Linked DNA regions of Homo sapiens: region 1 is linked to region 2. Evidence: fine-mapped QTL for protein levels in blood plasma. A gene starts in region 2. The other region holds a variant in brackets. All regions are shown on one strand. Distances are between the middles of the regions.

What was found. A credible set is the group of variants that fine-mapping cannot tell apart. PIP is the posterior inclusion probability: the model's chance that the variant is causal. Protein levels are from antibody-based Olink assays in UK Biobank. Linkage for the fine-mapping came from a reference panel and not from the study's own genotypes, which makes the PIPs less certain.
Region 1: its variant is the best candidate, but not a certain one, in a credible set for the plasma level of the REG4 protein (UK Biobank, PIP 0.90).

What each region holds. Positions count from the first base shown.
Region 1 is chr1:121,513,261-121,518,650 of GRCh38, reverse strand. No RefSeq gene overlaps it. Among named protein-coding and RNA genes, the nearest start is that of SRGAP2-AS1, 120 kb to the right of the region's middle. The variant C/G (reference allele first, on the strand shown) is at 2,176.
Region 2 is chr1:119,808,580-119,813,969 of GRCh38, reverse strand. It overlaps REG4 (regenerating family member 4), which reads left to right and starts at 2,510. Exons shown (of 6, transcript NM_032044.4): 1 at 2,510-2,561; 2 at 5,107-5,267. The coding sequence starts at 5,201.

The DNA of each region.
Region 1 (5,390 bases), 1.7 Mb before region 2:
GAGGAGCCACGTAGAGCTCAAGAAGCAAAAGCTACTGAGAGTAGATGCTATGTAAACTGCACAAGACGTTGACCTTTGTTAAATCCGAACACTGTTTAAGATAATGCTATCTCTTACCCACGAGGCTGTAGCTTGGAATATTCAGTGCTCTGAACCAAATTAAATAAATTAGTGCTTTATCCGGGAGGGGAGGAGAAATCTATGTTGTAACATTGAAACACATTGATTTGATTTCTCTCCAGGATGTTATAACGCATTAAAAGATATTTTAAATATTTTTCACGAGCTTTGTTTCCTCTCCCTTTATTTTTTGAAGTTCAGCTTTCACATTCGTAAATTCAAAATATATCAGCGTTAAAAAAAAAAAAAAGGATTGGAAATAACATAAGAGACAAATTTTGAAAATTGAACTATTTAACAAAACCTATGCTTATTCCAGGCAGGAATGGTTAATTTGTAATTGGTACGTATTACTAAAACATGTCCGTTTTTGTTTTAGTATTATATGCGCAAAACTTTGGAAACAGATGTAGATTCTTCAAGTTGGCAGTGAGAGAATATGAATAATACAATTCATTCAACCATATTATCTACCAGGTGCCAGTCATTGTGTTCAAAAAAGGCTAGATAGGCACGCATGCACGAATGCACGCATGCACACATGTACACACACACACACACAAATTAGACAACTATTTATCTGTGAATAACAAATCTTAGAAAAGCCTCTTCTCAGAAAATTATGGTCACAATGATTAAAATCTTTTGAATGAAACTTTAAAAGATGCCTTCAAGGACTAAATTGTATACACTGTTGACCCTCTGAGGGCATTGACTGGGCTTGCTAAACCCAAATTGCCTAATCAATGGCTGCTACATCACGCCTCTTTCTTTCTACCCTGCATCTGGTCTCAGGACTAACTGCACACGTTTCCCTATAATTAGGTAGAGTGTCAACACTAAGCACTTCTCACCTCAAACTAAACTCTGACTGACTTTTCCCAGTTAGTCTCATAAAATCCTTAGACACAGTATTCACCCGTCTTCAAATGAGCTGAACTTACTTAAACATTTTTTTTTCAGTTGAATCAGCCTATTTATGACAAGAAAAACTTACTTGCCCAAGTTGATGCTGATCCCCACTGTTGCTTTTGCTGTTAGAACAAAAAAGTTGAGAAAGAAATATAATTCTCATTTTGCTAAGCATTTTGAAAGTCTTTTCATCATTGTTCCTGTTCTATATTTAGATATTTGATATTTCCAGCCTTATGCACATTCCACTTTTTCAAATGCTCCATATCCTTTAAAACCAGCTTATCAACTGCCTTCCCTATATAACTTTTTCTGACCTTTCTGGTCCAAACTGACCTTTTCCTCCTTGGTGAAATAAATATTGCAACAAGCACTTTGATACTCTCATCATCATGAAGTGTATAAAGGGGGAATAAGGGTCCTTTGTTTTCTCCCCTTGAGTTGGGTGGGCTCTGTGACTCCCCTAACCTACTGAATATTGCTGAAGAGATATTGTGTGGGCTGGCCAGGCCTGGTGGCTCGCGCCTGTAATTCCAGCACTTTGGGAGGCTGAGGCAGGCAGATGACAAGGTCAGGAGCTCGAAACCAGCCTGGCCAATATGGTGAAACCCCATCTCTACTAAAAATGCAAAAAAAAAAAAAAAAAAAAATTAACTGGGCGTGGTGGCACATGCCTATAATCCCAGCTACTTGGGAAGCTAAGGCAGGAGAATTGCTTGAACCCAGGAGGCAGAGCTTGCGGTAAGCCAAGATTGCGCCACTGCACTCCAGCCAGGGCAACAGAGCAAAACTCTGTCTCAAAAAAAAAAAGAGAGAGCGAGAGAGAAAGATTGTGTGGGCTTTCTGTTCCAGACCACAAGAGCTTCCACTTCCTTTCTCTTGGAGACCTTGCTCATAGAAGACAGCTGCCTGGTGAAAAGTACTACGGTATTATCCTGAGACTGCCACACTGTGAGAAACCCAAACACCATGGAGGACCGCGTAAAAATAAAGTCAGATCAAGTAAAAAAGGAATATGCAGGTTATCATACATACAAAAGAATAGTTCACAAACCGGAAGACTTCAAATCAAAAGTAGTAAGAAACTTGACATGAGAGTTACAGTGCAGCTTATAAAGCATCAATGAGGAAGTGCATTGACCT[C/G]TATTGTGACTGGCTGTTAAAAACTTATATTCCTTTTTGGGCAAGTAGAGCTGTATAAGCTTATTTGTCTGTAACAAATTGGTTCAATTTCATCATACTAACAAGAAAGGAAAGCTTAACTTTTGTTAATGGTTAGAAATTGCATTTCAGGGAAGTCAGGATAGCTTAAATTTTGGTCATGTGGCTATGAGTGGTTAACCTAAGGATATACTGTGGCCTCCATTTTGATTATACTTTAACAAATCCCCCATACAGGACCTTAAATCATTGTTGATTGTTTCTTTTGCTGTGCAGAAGCTTTTTAGCCTGATTCAATCCCATTTGTCTATTCTTTCTTGGTTGCCTGTGCTTTAGAGGTCTTACACAAAGTATCATTGCTCAGACTAATGTCCTGGAACACTTCCCCAAAGTTTTCATCTAATTGTTTCATAGTCATAGTTCTAGGTCTTAGATTTAAACCTTTAATCCATTTTAATTTTATTTTTGTGTATGGTGAGATATAGGGGTCTGGTTTCATCCTTCTACATGTAATTACCTAGTTTTCCCAGCACCATTTATTAAACAGACACTCCTTTTCCTGTTGTATGCTCTTGGTGCTGTTGTTGAAGATGAGTTGGCTGTCAATGCATCGGTTTATTTCTGGGTTCTCTATTCTGTTTCATTGGTCTATGTGTCTGTTTTCTTGCCAGTTCTAGGCTAATTGGGTTACTATAGCTTTTTTTTTAATGTTTAATTTTTGTTTTAAGTTCCAGGGTACATGTGCAGAATATGCAGGTTTCTTACGTAGGTAAGTATGTGCCATGGTGGTTTGCTTCACAGATCATCCCATCACCTAGGTATTAAGCCCAGCATGCATTAGCTATTCTTCCTGATGCTCTCCTTCCTGCAACACCCCACCCCCAACAGGCCCAGTATGTGTCCATGCGGTCTCATCATTAAGCTCATTCAGCTGAGAATATGTGGTGTTTGGTTTTCTGTCCCTGCATTAGTTTGCTGAGGATAACAGCTTCCAGCTCCGTCTATGTCCCTACAAAGGATATGATCTTGTTCCTTTTTATGGCTGCATAGTATTCCATGGTGTATATGTACAACATTTTCTTTATCCAGTCTACCATTGATGGGCATTTGGATAGATTCCATGTCTTTACTATTGTGAATAGTTGGTTATTATATCTTTGCAGTAAATTTTGAAGCCAGGTAATGTGATGCCTCCAGCCTTTTTTTTTTTTTTTTCTTTTTTTGCTCCAAATTGCTTTGGGTCTTCAGGGTCTTTGTGGTTTCATATAAATTTTAGCATTTGTCCTATTTCTGTGAAGAATGGCATTGGTTTTTTAATAAGGATTGCATTAAATCTGTAAATTGCTTTGGATAGTATTGTTATTTTAGCAATATTAATTCTTCCAATCCATGACATAGAATATCCTTATTTAAATGTTTCGTTCAATTACTTTAATCAGTTTTTTATACTTATATTTGTATAGACCTATCAGTGTTGGTTCATAGATGTATATAATGGTTACATTTTCTTACTGAATTGACCTTTTAATCATTATGTAGTAAACTTCTTTATCCCTTTTTACAATCTTTGATTTGTAGTCTATTTCCTCTAATATAAGTATAGTTACTCCCACTCTTTTTTAGTTTCCAGTTGCATGCAATATCTTTTTTCACCCCTTCACTTTCAGTCTATCTATATGTTTAGAGGTGAAGTGGGTTTCTTATAGGCAGCATGTAGTTAGGTATTGTTTCTTTATCCATTCAGCCACCCTATGCCTTTTAATTGGAGAATCAAGTCCATGTAAATCCAGTGTTATTATTGATAAGTAGGGAATTGCTACTGCCGTTATGTTGCTTGTTTTCTGGTATTTTGAAACTCCTCTCTTCCTTTCTTCTTTTCTGACTCTCCTTTTGTGGTTAAGTGATTTTCTGTGGTAGTATGTTTTAATTTGCTGCTTTTTAATTTTTGTGAATCTATTATAGGTTTTTGCATTATGGTTACTATGAGGTTTACAAAAAACGTCTTGTAGATATAACAAGTTATTTTAAAGAGATGACAATTTATCTTAGATCACAAAGAATAGAAACAAACAAAGAAAAAACAAAACTTCCACATTTTAACTTCATTTCTCTCTCATTTTGAATTTTAATTGACTTTACATATCTTTATATTACCTATCTCTTAACAAGTTTCTGTAGCTATGATTGTTTTTGATAGATTTGCTTTTTGAGGCTTCATATTTGATTTATAAGTGGATTGCACACTACAATTATAGTATTAGAGTATTCTGAGTTTGTGTCCGGAATTTATTCCTTCTGGTGGGCTCTTGGTCTCGCTGACTTCAAGAATGAAGCTGCAGACCTCGTGGTGAGTGTTACAGCCCTTAAAGGTGGCACATACGGAGTTTGTTCCTTCTGGTGGGTTCATGGTCTCACTGACTTCAGGAATGAAGCCACAGACCCTCATGGTGTTACAGCTCATAAAGGTAGTGTAGACCCAAAGAGTGAGCAGCAGCAAGATTTATTATGAAGAATGAAAGAATAACGCTTCCACAGCATGGAAGGGGACCCAAGCAGGTTGCCACTACTGGCTCTGGTGGCCAGCTTTTATTCCCTTATTTGGCCCCACCCATGTCCTGCTGATTGGTCCATTTTACAGAGTGCTGATTGGTCCATTTTACAGAGTGCTGATTGGTTCATTTTTACAGAATGCTGACTGGTGTGTTTACAATCCTCTAGCTAGACACAGAGCTTTGGTGCGTTTACAATCCTCTAGCTAGACAGAAAAGTTCTCCAAGTCCCCACCTGACCCAGAAGCCCAGCTGGCTTCACCTGTCAATCCCCCCTCCAAATAGGACACCTCAACTGCTGTGGGAATTGGGCGATGACTACTTTAGCTACTTCCTGCTGGATAGGGGTGAAGAAGGGGGCCTGCAGTGGTAGCGTCCTCCAGAGGAGAACTCTCTAGGCCAGACAAAGGGCCAGTGAGTTGATCCAGGGGCCTCAGTAGAAGTTGTTAGTTGACCTCATTTAGGGTTCCATTTGTAAGACCTCTATAGCTTGATGGCATCCATCCTGGAGGTAACAAATTTGACAAGGAGGTTAAAAACACAGGGCCCAAAGGTAATAGCAAGATGGCTGAAACAGGACCTAGAAATGGGAGAAGCCATGTTGCCCAACTCCAGAGGTTGGTATGAGTTTGAAAGGCGTTGTCTGAT
Region 2 (5,390 bases):
TCATTCCTAACTCTCTTTAATCTCGTTTGTTATTGTCTGGTATTTTTGTTCCTACTTATATTAAAAATGAAATAAAGTTACTATTAATTTTATTTTAAACATTATTATAACTAATACAGTCAACACATTTCTTTATTGTAACACATCTTCTGGGATTATTTTATTTTTTGACAAAGGACACGCTTAAGCAGTAATTTCAATGAGTCTATGGATAGCAATCTTACTACGTTCTCATAACTTTAACATATCTTTTTGTCATACTCACCCTTAATGGTTGGTTAGCTGGGTACAGAATTCCAGGTTGAAAGTTGTTTTCCTTTGCACTTTAAAGCTAGTGTTCCATACTACCGAGCCATAAAAAGGAATGAAATAATGGCATTCACAGCAACCTGGATGGAATTGGAGACTATTATTCTAAGTGAAGTAACTCAGGAATGGAAAACCAAACACTGATGTTTTCAGTCATATGTGGGAGTTATGAGGATGCAAAGGCACAAGAACGATCCACTGGACTTTGGGGACTCGGGCGAAAGGGTGGGGGGTGGCAGGAGATAAAAGGCTACACGTTGGGTATAGTATACACCGCTTGGATGATGGGTGCCCCAAAATCTCAGAAATCACCGCTAAAGAACTTATCATGTAACCAAACACCACCTGTTCCCCAAAAACCTATTGAAATTAAAAATAATAAATAAATAAATAAAGCTACTATTCGAAAGCTGCCTGGCTTCCACTTTATCTCTCCATTATGGTGCCATCCCCATCCTTGTCACTTTGAAGGTGATCATTGCTGATTTGGGGCTTTTAGGATTCTCACTTTGACCATTTCATGTATGAGGTGTTTATATGTAGACTTTTTTTTTTTAAATAAACTTACTATTCAGTGGACCTTTTTGATTCAGACAATTTTCTGGTCCTTTACATTCTTACATCTCAAAGGTTTATGTGAGTCCTATCAATGCCTTAATTTGGAGCTAGTCAATGTGAGGGTTCAGTAAGAGACCTCTTAAAAGTCCTATGAACATCTTGTTTTCTAATCTGTTCTACTCTCTTCTCTCTCATCTCAAGTCTTTAAATCTGGATAATGGCATGGGGATAGCAGACTAAGGGTTGGGATGGCTGCTGGAAACACAGGAGATCTATCTAATCACCCATTTTGTTAAAACTTTTCTGTCTTACATCTGGACCAGGACTTCTGAAATTGAAAGGCTTGGAGTTAACATCTTTGTACGCCATTGTGCCATGAAGCAATGATGATTCCCATCCAGCTGCCTAAAGAGAAAGAGGTTTGTGTCAAACATTCTGATGGGAGAGATTCTTTAAAATGTTCTTTGTGAACCATGAAAGCATTACTTTCTCATGTCCTACCATGAATTTACACAACTGATGCAAAAATCTAATAACAAAGGTTGAGTAGCATTTTCCAAACAACAGTGAGCTGGGAGCAAGGAAGCTGGCTTCTGATATCAGCTTCACCCACAACTGTCTGTGCATTAAACTAGTCACAATGTTTCTCTAGGCCTCAATTTCCTCACCAGTAGAACAAAAGAGTAAGATTTGATAACTACTATGGTCCCTTCCAGACTTAAAGTTTCCAGACATAAAGGTCCTTTACAGACTTAAATCTGTAGTTTAAAGTTGAGTCATCTCTGGCACCTACAACCTAACCCTTTGCCATCTATACTGGAAAAGAAAATCTTGTTACTCTTTTCAAATAGCCTATTTTTCAGTAGAACTGTATTTTGGCAAACACCTATATTTGGAGTCAGAAGGACAAGGTTCAGTGTCCAGGTCCACTGCTGACCAGTGTTGTGAACCTCGGAAGGTTTCTAATCTCTCTTAAGGTTGGGTTTCTTGAGTGTGTAATGGGGATATGTGTCCTATGCTGCTCACAAGGATTTTGTTGGCATCTTATTTGATGACTTCACTGAAAACCCGTTATTGTAACACACTCTGTTGATGTAAGCTATTTTGACATGATCATCCATGTTCTGCGGGAGAAGCTCAAATAGTAGATCTCTGAGGAAACTCACGCATGTTGAAGGAGTGGAGTCGGTGCTTTAGGAAGGAAAATCTGTGTGTGGGTCTCAAGTCTCACCGCATGGGTCATAACCTATTCCTGACCCTGACAGAAAATCCTTCTAGAAATAAAAGAGAAATAAAGGAAATCCACCATACCAAGGCATAAAAAGACAGCCATGAAAAAGTAACATAAGGGGAGAGGAAGATGGGCTTATAACAGATTACAGGATGTTGTCAGTTTTAATAACGTGATGTGAAGAAAAGATTCTGTTTGCACACAGGGAGAGGTTCTTTTCCTGGCTAGTCAAAGCACACCTTACGTACATTCTGAAGCCGTCTCTTATATGATTCATTTTTTTCACTGTAGATAAGACTTTTATGGATGGATTGTTTTTCTCAAATAATATTATCGCTTTGTGACTAAAGTAAAGATTATTAATTCCTGAGGCAAGAAGATATAAAAGCTCCAGAAACGTTGACTGGGACCACTGGAGACACTGAAGAAGGCAGGGGCCCTTAGAGTCTTGGTTGCCAAACAGGTAATCCTCCTCGCGGTTGATGATGGGGGACTTTCTTTAAACATCTGTTTTCCTCTGTCAGCTATTAGCCAGGCCAGAAATGACAAATTGTATTTCTAGTGAGGCTTGTCAGGCTTTCTGTTGCTGTGTTGTTTGATTTAAATTATTTACCTTCTTTTCTTCCTTCACTGCAAAGAGCATTGGCTTTGGTGTCAAGCTGTTGGGTTAAATCTTGGCTCTGCAGTCTGGTAGCTGGGAAACTTTAGAAAAGTTACTCAATCATAAGTGTCAGTGTCTTCATTTGTAACATGCATTCATGAGATCTACAGTGCAGGTTTTTTGTTTTTGTTTCTGTTTTTGTTTTTGTTTTTGTTTTTTTATGGAGTCTTGCTCTGTCTCCCAGGCTGGAGAGCAATGGTGCAATCTTGGCTCACTGCAACTTCTGCCTCCCAGGTTCAAGTGATTCTCCTGCCTCAGCCTCCTGAGTAGCTGTGATTACAGGCACTTGCCACCACGCCCAGCTAATTTTTGTATTTTTTAATAGAGACAGGGTTGTGCCATGTTGGCCAGGCTGGTCTTGAACTCCTGACCTCAGGTGATCCACCTGCCTCAGCCTCTCAAAGTGCTGGGATTTCAGCCATGAGCCACCACACCCGGCCCAGTGCAGCTTACTTATGAACATGACATGCAGACATTCAATGAATATCAGTTCACTAAAAATTATTCACAGATTAGTAAAAAAGATGCTGCCTCTCCCTTCCCCCAGATGGTCACCTTGACAGAGAAATTCTGTTTGCGTTTTAAAGGGGTTTGAGGACATTGAAAATACACTATTACTTTTGGAAGGAAAGTTTAGCAAAGTGCAAGGTTCACGCAATGATTTAAAAAGAAGTAAGGGGTGGGGAAGGTCACATCCACACTCTCCAAGCTTTGTCTCATTCTCAGTTAATGTTGCCTTAAAGTGTTCAGATGGACCCCAGAATTGATTTTCCAGAAAAGTCATCATTTACATTATTCTCTTTAAGCAATCCATTATTTGAGAGTTAGATTGTATATTCAGATTTTTTAATCATAAAGTATGATTAAATGTGAATTCAATGAATTAACTCATTTTAAGAATTATTTGGGAGGGAAATCCAGAACTCAGTTTCATACTTATGTTAAAACAAAGCCCAGACAGATGAAAATAGAACAGTGATAAATATTTTAACCTTATGTGACAGTAATGGCCAGTCTTTTGATATAAATTTAAAAATTATTTTTAAAAACATAAAAAATAACAATATTTTTGAAAATTTCAGAATGGCAAAAATTATAATAAGTAAGAGAAAAATACAAACTGAGAAATACTATTAGTAACACGTGAAAGGCAATAAACATACAAAAAAGATCTCACAAATAAACATACAAAAAAGATCTCACAAACAATGAAATAGAAAAATGTGCAAAACTGTAAAATGAAAATTCACCAAATACTAAAAGCAAATCATTATATAAAAAGATGTTCAACTTCATTAGTAATTATAAAATATTTTAAAACACTAAGGTTCTTCTTTAATATACCAAAATTAGCCAAAAACTTGACAAAATTAAGCATTCTCTGGGAGCTTAGGGAACCAATCCTTTTAGTGCCCTATTAATGAGGTAAATATCACAGCCCATACATTTTAACAAAGGGTATTAAAATGACAATGTGCATGTTGTGTGATGCCACAACCCTATATATGAGAATTTATACTAAAGAAAAAATAAAAAATGCATGAAAGTTATGTGAGTGCAAGACAATGTATTACAATTAATCTGTTTCTGAGAAACAAAACCAGGCTATAGGACTATATGATCTTATTTTTATAAAATTGTACACAGAGAGAGGTGCATAGAAAGATATCTGTAGGCTACTCACCAAATTATCTCCTGGAGATGGGATTTACTTCTTATTTTCTAGTTTTGCATTGATTTTCTAATAGCTCATGTGTTGTTTGCTAATGGGGAAAAGATAAAGCCATGTTCTTTATTTTTAAAAATGATGTCAACTAAGTGTAAAGGAAAGAGTGCTGATGGAGTCAGATCTGCTTATAGCTGGTGTCCATGAACAAATGACTTCATACTTACTGACCTCAGGTTTTCTCATCTGTAAAATGTGGGTATTGGACACTGTGCTCACGTTTAATTTTAACATTTAAAAATTCAATGTCGGAGCCATTCTATTGGATTTTCTTGACAACAGAATGCCCATATCCGTCTTACCTGTGAGGAAGCTTGCCTTGGGCGCCCTCTGCTGGCCCTCCTGAAGCTAACAGGGGCGAGTGCTCGGTGGTTTACAAATTGCCTCCATGCAGACTATGAAACTGTTCAGCCTGCTATAGTTAGATCTCTGGCACTGGCCCAGGAGGTCTTGCAGGTAAGAACAAAATCTCTTAAAATTTTCTAACCTGTACATCTAACTTGAGATTCCCTTCATTATAAAGTCTGGATTTAGCCAGGAAAATATTGTATTATTTTCCTCCATATGTATTAGTTGGCATCTAGATTCCTGGGTCCTTCTCACCTGTGCAAATGTGTTCAGATTTGCAGATCAAGGAGAACCCAGGAGTTTCAAAGAAGCGCTAGTAAGGTCTCTGAGATCCTTGCACTAGCTACATCCTCAGGGTAGGAGGAAGATGGCTTCCAGAAGCATGCGGCTGCTCCTATTGCTGAGCTGCCTGGCCAAAACAGGAGTCCTGGGTGGTGAGTATCCATCACGTAGCTGGAACTGAGCCACAGCCAGTGTTCACACAGCCCATGTGAGACAGTCATCCATTTGCCCACAAAAACATTTAGGAACTGCAGGAAATAGGTTTTTAAACATGG